Regions from separate parts of the Homo sapiens genome. Here region 2 is linked to region 1. The links come from fine-mapping of genetic effects on gene expression. Tissue or cell type: sun-exposed skin. Region 1 holds a variant in brackets; the other region holds the start of a gene. All regions are shown on one strand. Distances are between the middles of the regions.

The links. PIP is the estimated chance that this variant, and not a neighbour inherited with it, causes the effect.
Region 2: it holds the start of SLC2A12, and the variant in region 1 is fine-mapped to the expression of SLC2A12 in sun-exposed skin (GTEx, PIP 0.94). The same link has a PIP of 0.9 or more in aorta.

What each region holds. Positions count from the first base shown.
Region 1 is chr6:133,987,365-133,995,472 of GRCh38, reverse strand. TBPL1 (TATA-box binding protein like 1) reads right to left here. Exons shown (of 7, transcript NM_004865.4): 7 at 5,041-8,108. It overlaps SLC2A12 (solute carrier family 2 member 12), which reads left to right. Exons shown (of 5, transcript NM_145176.3): 5 at 4,165-7,892. The coding sequence ends at 4,318. Among named protein-coding and RNA genes, the nearest start is that of TBPL1, 38 kb to the right of the region's middle. The variant A/G (reference allele first, on the strand shown) is at 4,981.
Region 2 is chr6:134,048,957-134,057,064 of GRCh38, reverse strand. SLC2A12 (solute carrier family 2 member 12) reads left to right here and starts at 4,441. Exons shown (of 5, transcript NM_145176.3): 1 at 4,441-4,687. The coding sequence starts at 4,585.

The sequences.
Region 1 (8,108 bases):
TGCTTCTGACTTCACTGAGAAAATGGACATAATCAGGGGGAAACTTCCACCCCTTCCACATACACAACCATTCCTCCAGGGCCTATGTAGGAATGCAGTCCTTCCTATGAGAGCCCCCTTCACCCCCTCTCTCCTCTCTCCCTTCTCCGGCACATTCTCCAGCAATTCTCCCAGCTCACTGCTGCATCATCTGCATCTTTACCTACTCCTCATCAGCACAGAAACCTGCTATGATTCTTTCTCCATCTTTTTAAAAACAAAACAAAACAAAAGGTCTTTTTGTGCCACTTTTCTCTCCAGCTTTTGCCCTATTTCTTGGGTACTATGTATAGCCAAGTTTTTCTAAAGCGTTGTCTATATTCGCTGTCATCACTTGTGCTTCTGCTCTTCCCATTCTCACGAAGCTGCTCCAGTGAGACTGTTATGGCCACTCCGCTCCTGAAATTACTTTTTAACATCCCAATTACCTCCATGTTGGTTAACTCTGTGGTCAATTCTCACTCCTCATCTTAGATTATCCCCAGCATTTGACTGGAGATAGTGCTCTTGGCTGGGGATAGTCCTTCCTGAAATGCTTGCCTCACATCCTTCTGCGACCCGTCCCCTGGTTATCTCTTACCTATGGTCTCTATTCCTCTGCTTCCTCTCTTAAAGTTGGTGTGCCCTGGGGCTTAGTCCCCTGACCACTTCTCTATCACCCTCACCAGCCAGTTGATCTCAGTCAATGTTAGTTTCTTTTTTGTTTGTTTGTTTGAGATGGAGTCTCGCTCTGTCGCCCAGGTTGGAGTGCCATCTCGGCTCAATGCAAGCTCTGCCTCCCAGGTTCACGCCATTCTCCTGCCTCAGCCTCCCGAGTAGCTGGGACTACAGGTGCCCGCCACCACGCCTGGCTAATTTTTTTGTATTTTTAGTAGAGACGGGGTTTCACCATGTTAGCCAGGATGGTCTCGATCTCCTGACCTCGTGATCCACCCACCTCGGCCTCCTAAAGTGCTGGGATTACAGGCGTGAGCCACCGCGTCCAGCCAGTTTTACAGTTTTTATCTCATTGATATGCCAGGGTCTGAAATTTATGTCTCTAGCTATCTCTCTAGAATTCAAGGCTTGTTTATTCAACTGCTTACTCTACATGTCTTTCCAAATGTCTAACAGATACCTAATACCTCACATGCCCTAAATTGAACCTGTGATGTTCTCAAACCTATTCTACTCACTGCCTTACCCACCTCAGTTGATGTCAATGTTATCCGACTACTTTGGCCACAAACTTTGGAGTCTTTCCTCTTTCTCACATACTCCACATTCAGTCTATCAGGAAGTTGTGTTGGCTCTTACTTCAAAATATATCCAGAGCCTGAACACCTTCACGGCTGCCCTGGTCTGAGTCACCATGATCTCCATCCTGAATTACTGCAATACCCACTTACTGGTCCCCATTTCTGCCTTTGTCCCCTCCCATCAGTTCTCTACACAGTGGCCAGAATGACCCCTTAAAATGCAATCAAGGTATTCTTTTGCTCCAATCCTCCAGTGGCTCTCCAGCAAGAGCAGAAGCCTTCCAATGCCCTTCCAGCCCTGCACAGCCTGCTAATCTCCCCTTCTTCTCTCACAGCCACACAGGCCAGAGGCTGCATCCCAGACACATCAAGCATGCTCAAGGCTCCAGATCGTGGCACTTGTTTTCTCTGCCTCGAATTCTCTTATCCTAGATATCCACCTGTCTTGCTGCTTCACCTCCAACAGACTTTTCCTGTCCCTCTATTTCAAATCCCAATTGTGTAGCCAACTCTGCACCCACTTTCCAATCCTTCAGTTTTAACCAAAGCAGAAACACTACATTTTACTTGGTCTACTGTCTATCTCTTCCTGCTATATTTAAATTCCATGAAGCCAGGGAATTTTGTTCACTGTTGTTTCCCAACACTTGGAACAATTCCTTGGCATATAATCGAAGCTCGGCATTGAATAGATGAAAAAACATGAATGAAATGGATACAAGAATAAGGTAATGAAGTAGTCAGGATGACACTGCAAGTTTTAGCTGAGAAACTGGACAGATGGTGAGATGCAGAAGCCTGAGAGAGGACTAGGTTTCAGGGCTCAGGACAGAATAGAGCTCGGATTTGGAGATATTGTGAGATGTCCATTAGACATCAAATAGACACATTAGTAGTAGGCAGTTGGATACGTAAGTCTGAAATTTGGAGACTCTAGGGGTTAGAGTCAAATGTGGGTGGCCATCAGCTTATAAGTGGTATTTAAGTCCTGAAGCCAGATAAGCTTATCTGGTCAGAGAACAGAGAGAGAAGGGACTAGGCCCAGTTTTGTGCCAAACTTAGAGACCGAGCAAAGAAGAGAGTGTTAAAAGGGACTGAAAAGAAGCCAACAGTGAGGCTGGAGGAAAGCCAGAAGTGTTGTAGGAAGGTGGGACTGGAGAGGCCAAGCACAAAGACAGATGTAAGCACAGGCTCAGCGGAATGAGAGGACAGAAGCTGACTGATGTGGTTGGAGGACAAAATGGAAGTGAAGTGAAGAAGCAACAGTCCACTCCTTACATCAATTTTGCTGTGAAGGGGAACAGAAAAGCAGGATGGTCATGCCCTAGACTCATTTCCAATCACTGCTTCATTCACAAGCATTCCACTCACCCTCTAACCACTCATCTCTCCAGCCCACTTCCTCAAGTACTGGCACTTCAACAAGTCTTCAGCCCCACGACGACCTGGAGGCCCATGCTCTCCCTTCCTTCCTTACCCTGCTTCCTACTTTCCATGGCCCACCAAGGCCACTTCTTCGCATTTCCCCTTCTCCCTTTACTCTCTTCTCTCTCCCTCCATCACTCAGGCAAACCTTAACTCTGACCAAGTCAACTCTTAGTTTATTTTAACCCTGCATTCAAGGAGCTAAACCTGGCTGAATCAAACACACAACTATGCTGATAAGCCTTGTTTTCACCTTATGAACATACATCTCAAGTAGATCTTGAGGAATACCCTGCAATATACCACATTTCCCTGGTGAGTTGACGTTCCTACTTTCGAAGATGATTACTTCACACCAATACTTTTCCCAAGCCTCCAGGACCCCCTCCCACTTCTTCACTCTAATTATTTTGCTTTTTAGTTCACTGAGAAAATAAATTGAGACCACCTTGTCCTCCTGCCACAAGATCTTCTAACCTACCTACATCTATGCCCACACACACTGCCTTGTTGCAAAGGCCAATGCTTCCATTTGTACACTGACTGCATCAATTTCCCCCTCCTATGGGATTATCATCACGCACACACGCACAAAGCTGCAGTATTTCCCATCCTGAAAAAATACCTTCCTCAGATTTCCCTCCAGATACCAACCGTTTCCCTGCCCCAACTTCTCAGGTCTCTGGGATTCTCTGCAGGAGTTCCCTCCCTAACTTCATTCCATTTTCTGATCATTGTCACTGCTTTAGAGAGATGCCACCTGTATAATACAGTCTGTCCTCTCCCACCCAACTAAACCCTTTTTTCTCCTTCCCCGTTTATTTCTCATTTGCACTTTTACTACTTCAAGTTATAAGCTCGTCTCCCCTCTAAAATCTAAGTAAGCTCCTTGAAAACAGAAGTCTTTATCTACTCAACCCATACTACCTACATATTGTGGCCACTCAAATCATTGGTTAAATTACAGAAAAAGGTATTTGAAAAGGGAGGTTCAAAGGCAGCTCTTCATTTTTAGTAAAGGTAAAATACAATAGCATCTTTTTATGCTGATGGGAAGAATCCTGTAGAAAAATTTGTTAATGCAGGAGTAAGGGATAACGTAGAAGATAGAAGAGATATAAATATAGGCACATTGCTGGAGTTTGAGAAATGGAAAAAAATAAGGTCTGGGATGAAACCTCCACTGGTTCTCTGTATGTAATACTATCCTTGGAATCCTTCCCCACAGAGCTGACTGCTGGGATTGTATTCTGAGAAGACACCGTTACCCCTTGCATGAGATTGACCAAAGTCTGTGGCATACTGAATTTCATGATGCAGCAGGATTCCTAATAAAAATGTGTATTTATTTTTGCATAGCTAAAACATTAAAGCCCCAGGGTGGTTTAAAAAATAATAGCCTACACATTTTTTTCATGTAAACTAAGAATGACATTTTCATTAGTGCCTCTTTCTCTTTCAGGAACTATGTGAAAAACAACATTTGTTTTATGAGTCATCACCAAGAAGAATTAGTGCCAAAACAGCCTCAAAAAAGAAAACCCCAGGAGCAGCTCTTGGAGTGTAACAAGCTGTGTGGTAGGGGCCAATCCAGGCAGCTTTCTCCAGAGACCTAATGGCCTCAACACCTTCTGAACGTGGATAGTGCCAGAACACTTAGGAGGGTGTCTTTGGACCAATGCATAGTTGCGACTCCTGTGCTCTCTTTTCAGTGTCATGGAACTGGTTTTGAAGAGACACTCTGAAATGATAAAGACAGCCTTTAATCCCCCTCCTCCCCAGAAGGAACCTCAAAAGGTAGATGAGGTACAAGGTCCTAAGTGATCTCTTTTTCTGAGCAGGATATCAGGTTAAAAAAAAAAAGTTACTGGCTGGTTTAATACTTTCTACCTTCTTCACAGAGCAGCCTTTGAATAGACTATGTCCTAGTGAAGACATCAACCTCCGCCTTAAGCTATGTATGTATGGAGGCCAGTCGCAGCTTTATTATGCAGACACACAAGTGGTCTGGACATGAGGGTACAGTTTCTGCCTACCAAGACACTACTTGCACTGGATCTTACGCAAAAAAGAACCAGAACACACAGTGTGGACAACTGCCCATATATTCTATCTAGATTAGGAGAGGGTCCTGGCTAGGATTTTAGTGGTAATTCCTAGTTACATTCAACAAGTATAAAGATTATAGAGCTTATTTTATGAACTATAAACTATAATTTAATGCAAAATATCCTTTTATGAATTTCATGTTAATATTGTGAAATATTAAAATAATTCC[A/G]CAATAGTTGAGAAAAATGAGCATTTTTTTCCATTTTTAAAAAATGCATAGAAAAGACAATTTTAAAATCCTGGGACCATATTTATTTAGAAGTAGCTGTTAGTAAAACATTAGAAAAGGAGTCAGGCCATTAGGTTATTTATCCAAATCTCTAAGCAATTAGGTTGAAGTTATTAAGTCAAGCCTAGAAAAGCTGCCTCCTTGTAAGGCTTTCATGACAATGTATAGTAATCCACAGTGTCCAATTCTTCACACTCCTCAGGAATATCACTACCTCAGGTTACGGTACACAGGCTATAATTGATGATGATGTTCAGATAACTGAAGACACAATAAATGACATTCAGACATCAGGACAATTCCCTCATGTTCTTTTCTATGATGGCCACCTGTACCAGCAACGTGGGTTTCACCCACACAACGATGAACTGTTCTCTTACTTCTCCAGTTGATTTTAAAGACTTGTTAAGAGGTCTTACTAATAAAATTTGGGTATGATAGAAAATCCACAATCAAATCTTGAACCAAATAACATATTAAATTACTAATATTTAAGTGATGGAAGACACACAAAAAACTTAAAAGCACGAACAACCTAACTTGAAAAAGAATTTTAAAATATGATTAACCTGAAGAAAAGAGAATCCTAAGAGCCAAAGCTCCTTTTTATTTAGCTTGGAATTTTCCTATTGGTTCCTAACAAACTGTCCCAATGTCATATAAGGAAACATGATCTATTACATTCCTTTATAACAATGTGGAGAGACTATAAACCTATGTAAGTAGTAAAACTATATCAGAGACTCAGGAGACTGACTAAAAGGCCTGGATCTGCAGTGTATTATCTGTATAAAAATTGGCAGGGGGAAGCTAAAAGGAAAGGAGATTGGAGATCTCAATTCTATCATGGTGTATTTCATACGCAAATCAGAGCATGCATTGTTTTTTGTTTTTGGAAAGAGAAGGGAAGTGTGTTCTGCCCCATGTTTCCTTCCGTGTTTATAGTTCAAACTCTATATATACTTCAGGTATTTTTTGTTTAGCCCTTCATTATAAATGGGCAGGAAATTGTTTATCAACCTAGCCAGTTTATTACTAGTGACCTTGACTTCAGTATCTTGAGCATTCTTTTATATTTTTCTTTTATTATCCTGAGTCTGTAACTAAACAATTTTGTCTTCAAATTTTTATCCAATATCCATTGCACCACACCAAATCAAGCTTCTTGATTTTCAAAAATAAAAAGGGGGAAATACTTACAACTTGTACATATATATTCACAGTTTTTATTTATAAAAAAAATTTACAGTACTTATGGAGAGCCAGCAGAAGACATCAGAGCACTCACTTCTTCCCATCTTTGTTAAGGTTAGCGAATTACCCATGGACACTGTTAGGTGAGGCTCATTCGGCAGCCCTGAAAACAAACCTGGTCACACTGTCTTTACCCTCTCCCTTCAGATAAAGCACTTCGATTATCTATTGATCTGCCCAGTTTTCAAGTCATGCGAATACTAAAAAGGTTACATCATCTGGATCTGTACCTTGGCTATATAAGCATGTTTTCCCCCTATTCTATGTTTCTTTTTTTGGTGAACATTGAAAAACAGGAGGTGACTTATTACTGTTAATTAAAACTAAATGAAAAATGTCAAGTCTTTAAAACAGTGAGCTTGTAACTCTTTCATGTAATTTTATTCTCTATGAATTTGGCTATCCTACTGAATCTTAAAATAAAGGAAATAAACACTTTTTTTTTAAAAAAAAGGAAAAATACAAGTCTAAAAATCTCAATGAAATATTTCACAAGAAGGAAAAATGTAAGTTAGCCTTTGCTTTCCACTTTGGAATAAGCAGGAGGTTAGGGAAGGCATTGAGAAGAAAAAAGATAAAAATAATATGTGTTGTTCAGTGCAGTGCCTAAGCTAGGTTTTCAAGATTTTATAATACAGTAAGGAAAATGTACTATATATGGAGATTAGGATGTTGCAATTTTTCCACAAAGGTTTAAAAACATTTTGGAAATACAAGTTTTTGTGGAACATTGTGTTGGAATATTGTCCCCATTAAGTTTCTCCTGAGAAGCTAATTGGACTCTCCACTCAGCTTTATTTCTAGGTATAATCACTGTTGGTTACACTAAACTCCTAAACCTAAATGACAGGGCACAACTACAGCTTGATCCTGTATTACCACATCAGGGCTCCTGGGTGAGCCAGAGACACTGTTTCATAAATGCATATTTATTATAACTTTAAGAGTAGCAATCTCATATACTGAATAGTCACTCTTTAACTCCATTAAATAAGATACAGCAAGGGGAAGGACAGTATCACACAAAATGGCTTTCAAATTCAAGTGGGGCTATTTGATAATTACACTGTGGCACAGAGGCAGCTTATGGGCACTTCTTGTTAAAACATCTCCATGTTACCAACTTCTGACAAGACTCTTAGTATAGGCTTGGGCATCAACCCAAGATTAAAGTCAAGAACCTCAATCACTTCTCTACAACTACAGGTGTTGAGTCTTTCCAGAAAAACAAAGGTCCAAATGAGGCACCATTCATCACAGCTTCTTTCTCATTTCCATCTAGTGGGTAAGAGGTTTCTCTTCTTAAAACTACAATTTCTTAACCTTTACAAGTTATTTAACATTTTCTATCATATTAAATTAGCAACATAAAACATTATCCTTTATCTATAAACTTCTAGTCTGGTTCCCTAGAGTTTATATACACGTTTTTATTTCTAATCTGCAAGAAAAAAAATTCCTATTTGTTATTTGGTAACAGAGCATTAAAAGATACTATACACATGTGGTGCATATATATATATATATATACACACACACACACACACACACACAAAATACACTTCAAAAAGAAGCCAACACACTTTAGCCAAAGTCTTAAGCTTGCATAGATTTTAAAAAAAAGAAGTATGAATACAATTTTTGTTAAAATAGAAAATGGGGAATAAAAGTTATAGAATGAAGAGAGATCTTTTCCAAACTTTTATTTGTGCACATTCAATTGAAAAAGATAACTTTTACAGGTTCTTTGGTGCCCATATTCAGCATACAAAAATGTAAAAGACTATTCACAAATAAAACACATTAGCTCAAAA
Region 2 (8,108 bases), 62 kb before region 1:
CCCTTTCTTCAGGTTAGTATTGTCATATTCTGGAAGATTTGCTTTATAAATAAGCAAACTTCTGCTGTCTGCAAATGAGAATGACCCACTTAGAGTTGTACTGTGTCCAAATTGCACAATGGTATATGGCAGCCCTAAGTATGAAGAAGTTTTCTTCAAATTTATATTTATTATATATACAATCTGATAGAAGCATTAAGCAAACAACTTTTAAGACAGTACTTTTTACACATGATTTACCACCTCAACCTATTAGTTATTTTCAGTTGTTCCAAGTTTCCTTCCAGTCTCTACCAATAGGCGCATATATTTTAAGAAAGTATTGTAATAGTAATGAGTATGCAACTTTCTGTATGCCACTTTGATTCTCCCACTTAAAATAATTGGAAAAACATTTTCTTGCATTGCTACATTGTCTTTCTTTTAATGATTTATCACATGTTATAGCAAGTGAACATACCATAATAAATTTAACCACACTTACTTTGTAATTTGAGGAACTTTAATCAACATGTTATGAGTGATAATATTCTACACCTAAGGAAAGAAGTCATAATGAAAACTTTCAGATAGAGAAGTTATTTAGATAGTATAAACAGTGAAATAATAAACATCCTTCCAAACAATCATACCAAGATGAATATTTTATTGCAATTAGGCTAAACAAGAAGTGAATTTGTATTTGGAATTTTTTTGTTTGCATAAAGACCATATTTTCCCATTTGTGTTTACACTGTAATGAACCATTGTAGAAGGTGCATTCCACATCAATGTGCACTGCAGGGTGCACTGCAGGGAAACAATACGGTGTAGTGAAAAGCATTTGGGTTTTGGAATCAAATGGACTTGAACTGCTGTGCTCTGAAATGTTATGTTCTGCATAAAAAGACTTGTGCAAGAGTGCTCATAACAGTTTTATGTGTAATAGCAAAGAATTGGAAACAGCCCAGATGTCCATCAATAGGAAAATGGATAAACTGTGGTGTATTCACCCATATAACACTATTCAGCAATAAACAAAATGAACTACTAATATACATAAAAACATGGATGGATATCAAAACTATGCTCAGTGAAAGACTCCTTACACAAGGCTGCATTCTCTGTGGTTCCATTATATGAATTAAGGTTTAGAACAAGCAAAGGTAATCTATGTGGAAAAATATCAGAAAATTGGTTGCTTCTGGAGCTTTTTTGTCTTGAAAAAAAGAACCTAGTATTGAACTCTATTTAATAATATGCATTCTGAAGTATTTCAACTTACTTTGATATGTATAAAAACTAATACGGATCGACTGATGGATGGAAGAATTGTTATATATAGATGTGAATGAGCAAGCATGGTAAAATGTCGAGTGTAGGTTTTCCTGTGGGATTCAAATTTTTATAATTCAACATTGGAAAATGTTTTGATCTTAGAAATGTTTCATAAACTTCTCGGTTTCAGTTTCTGCAAAATGGAAGTAACGGTATTTACTTCACAAGGTTTTTGTGAAGCTTTTAAAAAATTGCCATGAAAATAGGCATGCTCTATGGTAGATGTTTACGAGCCCTGTGAAGCTGCTTGTCTTTCATCCCCTCTTCCCCGCTGTGCCAGTTTATAAGTCAGGATAGGTGTTTTTGGATTTGGTAGCATTGCCTATGAGCAGTGGTCCAAAGTGGTATGTAGCAAAATTATTGGGGTTATGAAGAATGAACTGTCTGCTGTCTGCTGATTATGAATTCCTTGAGTGGAGGAACAGATTTTAATAATGGAAGTGGCTCAAACTCCAGGGAAGATGGATAGCCTGTGGTTATACTTGGTCTAAAGGAATTGGCAGAAACAGAGAGGAAGGACAAAATGTCATAGGCAATCATCATATGGATTTTAATATTTAAAAACTAAATAGTTATTTAGTCACTAAAAGCTCTATTTGTGAGCACTCATTTATCTAACAAATATTTATTAAGTGTCTACTGCATGCCTGGCATTGTGTTAGGAGCTGGACGAATGTGCAAGATAGAAATAGGTGCCTGCCCTCTTGGAGCATACATTCTAGTGTTGCTAAAGTTTATTGGATTTACAGGGATCAGTCTGTCAGCCAGCAAATACTTACTGAGTATTTGCTGAGTGCCAGACACGCAGAATACTATAATAAACTAAACAAACATAGTCCATACTCTCATAGAGTTTGCAATCTAGCAGAAAAGGCAGATTTAATTGAATCACCGCATTTAACTGTATTAAATACATTATGGTGTGCAAAAGGCTGGGAAGGAGAAGTACAGGGTTCGTAACAGAATTGAGGCAGAGTTTCCCCCCTCTAGTCTGGGTGAAAAAAATTTTCTCCCCTAAACTTTTCTCTGAGTTAAGAGATTGAGGTAAGTACAAACAGAGCTTGAGATAGCCAGTGGCCCCGGTCAGGTCACCAGCAGAATAAAGAACAGAATTAGGAGCACCAGGAGGTGATGTTGTCAGTTGCATTGCTGAGCATTCTTTTTGACTCCTGGTTGGCTTACTATGCCTGTGGATCTCCTGTATGGTTTGGCTACACAAAACAGAGTGAGAACTGTTGAACTGCTTTTAACCATAGTAAAGTATTCTGGAATTAGTTTTGTCTTCTGTCTAGTCAAGCACTATAGCAAACACTCTAACACTCCCATGGGGCCAAGAAGCTGCTAGAAACACAGGTTGTGGGATCACGAAACAAAGCAATGATACAACTAACCCATTGCAAGAACATTTTCCCCCTAATGAGGTCATTGGTTCTGAGCAGAAAGAAGTTAGAAGCCAAGAGAATATAGAGAACTTATGGGAAACATATGTGTCTCACAGATAGAAACTGGGACTCCTATATAATTATAATGCACCCTGGGAACAAATAAAATGAGTTGTTTCAAACCATGGTTGCGTTACACATTCTTTAGTGGGGACACTGATGTGTGGGATTCTGAACTTCTCACCCTCTTAATCATAAGGGGCCTGGATTATGCCTGGAGGACTTCCATTTTCTAGCACTATCAGCAGACATACAACGGGTACATAATAAAGACTAGTTGAATTATTATAGGTTTGTTTCCATTTGCTACCTGTTTCCCTGAAAGATAAGAAAAATATAGAATTATTTAATGACAAGCAAAGGAAATGTACAAATAAGTGAATTTAGAACTTTGAAGTGATTCAGTTAAAATGTTGAAAAGAAGTAACAAAAATTTAGCTTCTGCTTATACAAGCACAAATTTGTTTTTCTGTCCAGAGAAATGCCTATGACTAAAAGCCATATTTCACGGCATCTTCTTAAAGTCGAGTAGGTCTGAAACCATAGGAAGCCAAGAAAATTAGAGAAGGACAAGGCTGGGAAGTTAGAATATAGGAGAGTTACAGCTTTAGACCTCCTGGATTCATAATCTCAGCTCTACCACTGATTAGCTGTGAGACTGTAGCCAAGTTACCCAACCTCCATTTCCTCTTCTATAATGTTGGTACCTGCCTCAAAGTCATCATCTGCGTTATTGCGCTTAGCACAATTTCTGGCACATAAGTGCTCCACACATGTTAGTTTTTATTCCAAATGATTTTTAAGATGATCTCAATTTCCTCTATAAGGCTTTTTTTTTTAATAAACATGATTTGTTGAATGAATAACTGAAGGTAAAATGTCATAACCCTGTAAGACTTTTTTATAAATATGTTCACAAATCAGAAAAAGATCCTCTCTCATGACCTGATTTTGTTTGAGATTACATGTCCACCACACGCACACAATGGGCCACTTAGTCTGGCCTCTCTGAGTGAGGAGTATCCTCCTCCTACCTACGCAAACATGAAACCTAACAGAGGATTCAGTGTTAATTTGTCTCTTAAAGACAATTCTGCATTAAGAAATGGATTACTTTGCTATAACCTCAGCATATAAAAAGTCTAAAGAATCTGTGCATTCTGAGTTTGTGTATTTTTGGTCTCAGGCTGTGATTTATCTGAAAGGCCTTGGAGAGAAAGATATAGGCCTTTACCTAGACCAAAATCAGGTTGAAACAATAAAGGTATTTTATGCTTTGTGTAAGCTGGTAAATACCATGACTTTTGGAATAACAGTCTTGCTGAAAAATTGACACACTTTTCCTTCTGGTATGTCTTTGCATAAATTGTTCCTCTTTCTGCAAGATTAACTGATACCATCTGTGAGTATTCTATCCCCACTCTCAGCTTGCATTTAAATCTGCATGTTTCCTTTCTCTGCCTCTTTTCAAAGGTGCTAGAATACAAGAGCTACCCTTAGCTAATGGCCAAACACTCCGTCTGAGTTCCCTTTCTTTTAACCCCTTGCTTCCAACTCTGCATCTAAAGGCAAAAACAATCCTCTGACTCACGGCCCTCCCCCTGCCTGTGATAGGCTGCTTGGAATAGCAACAGCCTGTGTCACCGAAAAGGGCAAAGCCTTCGGAAATAGAAACAAAGTTGGTCACAAATCACATTAGCTTTGCCCGAAGTTTTTCCCCACACTCTTCTTTAGCATGCTATTATGGGGAAAGTGACCACTCCTGGGAGCGGGGGTGGTCGGGGCGGTTTGGTGGCGGGGAAGCGGCTGTAACTTCTACGTGACCATGGTACCTGTTGAAAACACCGAGGGCCCCAGTCTGCTGAACCAGAAGGGGACAGCCGTGGAGACGGAGGGCAGCGGCAGCCGGCATCCTCCCTGGGCGAGAGGTAAAGTGAGCCTGCAGTGCTCGGGTGACCGCAGAGAAGCAAGCTGTACTCATCTCCCGAGTGTACTGTCTCTTGAGTCCCGTGTGTGTGTGTGTGTGTGTGTGTGTGTGTGTGTGTGTGTGTGTGTATGCGCGCGCGCGCATGTGGGCGCGCTGGATGAGTGGAGAGAAGGGGACAGGGTCTGGTGGGACGTGGGACAGCTCGGAGCTGTAATGTTGTGAAGATCGAAGTCTTGGTGGAACCTTATGTGCCAAGAAAATACAGGTTACACATCCACCACTGGTATGATGGGTCCCCTTGATTGTGTTTACATAATACAATGTATGGATGTTTTTCATATTGGAACGGTCCACTGGCAAAGATAGTCTCATTTGTAAACACACACAAGCACACGCTTGCTTACACTTTTTCATTTATTGTCACAAATGGACACTGTGTAACCAGTTGACATTATAACCACTGTTTTAAAAATCAGTATTTTAAACAGGCTTCATAAAATTATTAGTTATGTAATCAATGAGAACACAAACTTCCTTTTTAAATTCCCAGCACGTTTGTGATGAATTTGAGCGTTATTCAGAGCCTGAAACGCTTGCTTTGCTGGGTTCTGCCTTCTTTAAAACTGGCCTTGCAAACTGAGGTTTGTTTGCTATGATGACCTTCTGAAGGTGAAATTTGGAAAAGTTTTAATTCATTTAATGATCTTTGATAAATCAGAGGCTGGTCTTCACTTCCACATTTACAATTCCCACAAATACATTGTACGCTTTTTGCTGCCTCTTCCTGCTCATTTAGTTTGTGCTGCAAGGAATAGAAAGTAATTGTAATATGAAATGACAACAAACACAAAAAATCTTCTCTTTCCTACTACTTTCCTCAGCTGTGTATTCTTAATCAGATATTACATTCCCAAGCAGCATATAGAAATTTCATGCAAAATCCAATACACTAAATGATACAAAAGACATCTGCCTTTCTCTTGGGAATGGTCCTAATACTGACGTTTGCCTTGTGGGTTTGTCTGATCTTGGGGAATCGAACCTGTGACCCCTAACATCGAGGCATGAAGCGGCCCTCTTCAGGAGTGGAGAAGCCCTCCATCTTCCATGTCCTGATCTCTTCTCTTGCTTTCACACTTCTCGTCAAGAATGAGGCCGGGCGTGGTGGCTCATGCCTGTAATCTCAGCACTTTGGGAGGCCAAGGTGGGCAGATCACTTGAGGCCAGGAGTTCAAGACAAGCCTGGCCAACAGAGCGGAAACCCTATCTCTACTAAAAATACAGAAAAATAAAAAAATTAGCTGAGCATAGTGGCACATGCCTGTAATCTCAGCTACTCAGGAGGCTGAGGTACAAGAATCACTTGGAGGTTACAGTGAGCTGAGATCATGACACTGCACTCCAGCCTGGGTGACAGAGTGAAACTCTGTCTAACATAATAATAATAATAATAATAAAAGAATATCTGGGGTCATCTTTCAATATGGCCTGTCCTCTCCTATGCAGAAGTACCCTTTTCCCTAAGCGCTTGCTACTCATTGGCCCACAAGTTCCCTAAGAGCAGGCAAGGGAAACTTATATTTGGAGATAAAGGGAAAGAGTTGCAAAGTTCTTTTCTCCAAATTCCTGGGAACATGAGCTGCAGTCTAGACTGCAGAGCAAGCTGAGGTGGTGATGTTAACAAAAGGGCTCACTAAATACAGTCAGTGATAATGTCACAAAGAAGATGAAAAGAAACTGCCTAGGAAGAGCCTTTGTAGTAACCATTAAAAATGGACTGTTTATTTTGATATGGCTTTGAAGGTACAATGTGCTCTTAATAGCTTATATTGTACAAATTCACAATTATCCAGAAGAAAGATAATGTGTATTTACATTTGCAATAGTTGGTTACATGCACAAAATTCAACTTAAAGTGCAACTGTTTATGTTGTAAAGAAATAATAAATGAATAAGTACCATAAATTATCTTTCAAATTTAATTTTAAATTAACTTTCATTTTGTAGAAGAGAAAGCCTGAATGTTTCCTTAAAATGTCAGATGAATACAACTTTGATTTGTGCTATACATAATCTGCATTTAGATGAATGCAAACCTTTTATTTTCTACTTTTGTAAATTTTCTTAACTTATCTTAAACATCTTTTGGCACCCAAAAGCAATTATACATACATATGTATAAATGAATGCATAGTGCAGACTTGCTGTATGGTTTTCTTAAGTTACTTAAAGTCTCCATTCATTAATATTGGGATTGTATCTTCATCTATTTTATGAAGGTGTTGAGATTTAATGAGGTAATATTTGTCAAATACTCCTTTTGGCTTCTTCATATTTTCAACTTCCATAGTTTTCATTTAAGACATTCAGAGTATTTAAATTATGCTCAACAATTATCACAATATGTCTGCATTTGAAGGTAGCAAGCTTTTCTACATTCCTAGATGGAAAAATCAAAGCACAAAGAGGAATGAGTTATATAACTCAGGACAAGGTAATTAAATCATGTGAGATACTGAAAAACAAAACAAAACCAACCCCCTAAGGTCTGCAGTTGAACTCCCTTGATGCTATTGTGCACAGTGAAAAATTTTGGTAGGTCTTTCTTGACTAACCCTCTTTAACTGAAAAGAATGCTTTGTTCCAATGACTAGAAGCTAATGAACTTAATTCATTTTCAATAAGCTATGACTCAAAGTGGTTACATTTTTAGTAAATTTTTTCAGCTTTCATGGACATGTTCCAATCCATCTTAATATAGGACAGGATTAAGCTCAGTTTGAAATTCTGGTGCCTAGAGTTGACAACAGATATAAATGAAGTGAGATATTAGACGGATGGAGCAACTCACACAAGGGAAATCTGAGGTCAAAAGATGTGTGATCGGCCCACGGTCACACAGAGGATGGTGCAGAACTGACCCTGGTGGCCTCTGGCCCAGGAGATTCAATACTGACTTCTACTTCAGCTCCCAGGCTTCCTTTATTTCATGATCCAAACAATTGGCTGGGGACAGAGTCCTCTTAAGTTTCCCTTCACCCCCAACTGTCCAAAGGTTCAGAAAACAAGAACAATATTTACTGTATGAGTGCAGGTTGTCAGCACTGCAGAACTCTCTGGCACTGGGACCCAGAACATGAAGAACGGGACTCACGAACTCAGCTGAAAGGACTGTCCTTTATCCCCTCTGAAGATGCCACAGTCTGGAATTTAAGAAATACACGCTTCTGCTCAGCAGATGAACATTCTAAGGCAGTTGTTCTCAAAACGCTTTTAAAGCTGTGAACTCCTTTTTCCTAAATGGAAGCTGGGCAGGTGGTGAGTATGTAAGATGTAACTGTAACTAAGTTCCTACTGAGTGCTGTTCTCCCGGGTTTAGCTTAAAATGGGCCCCCTGGAATTTCGTCAGGCCTGGCTTTCTC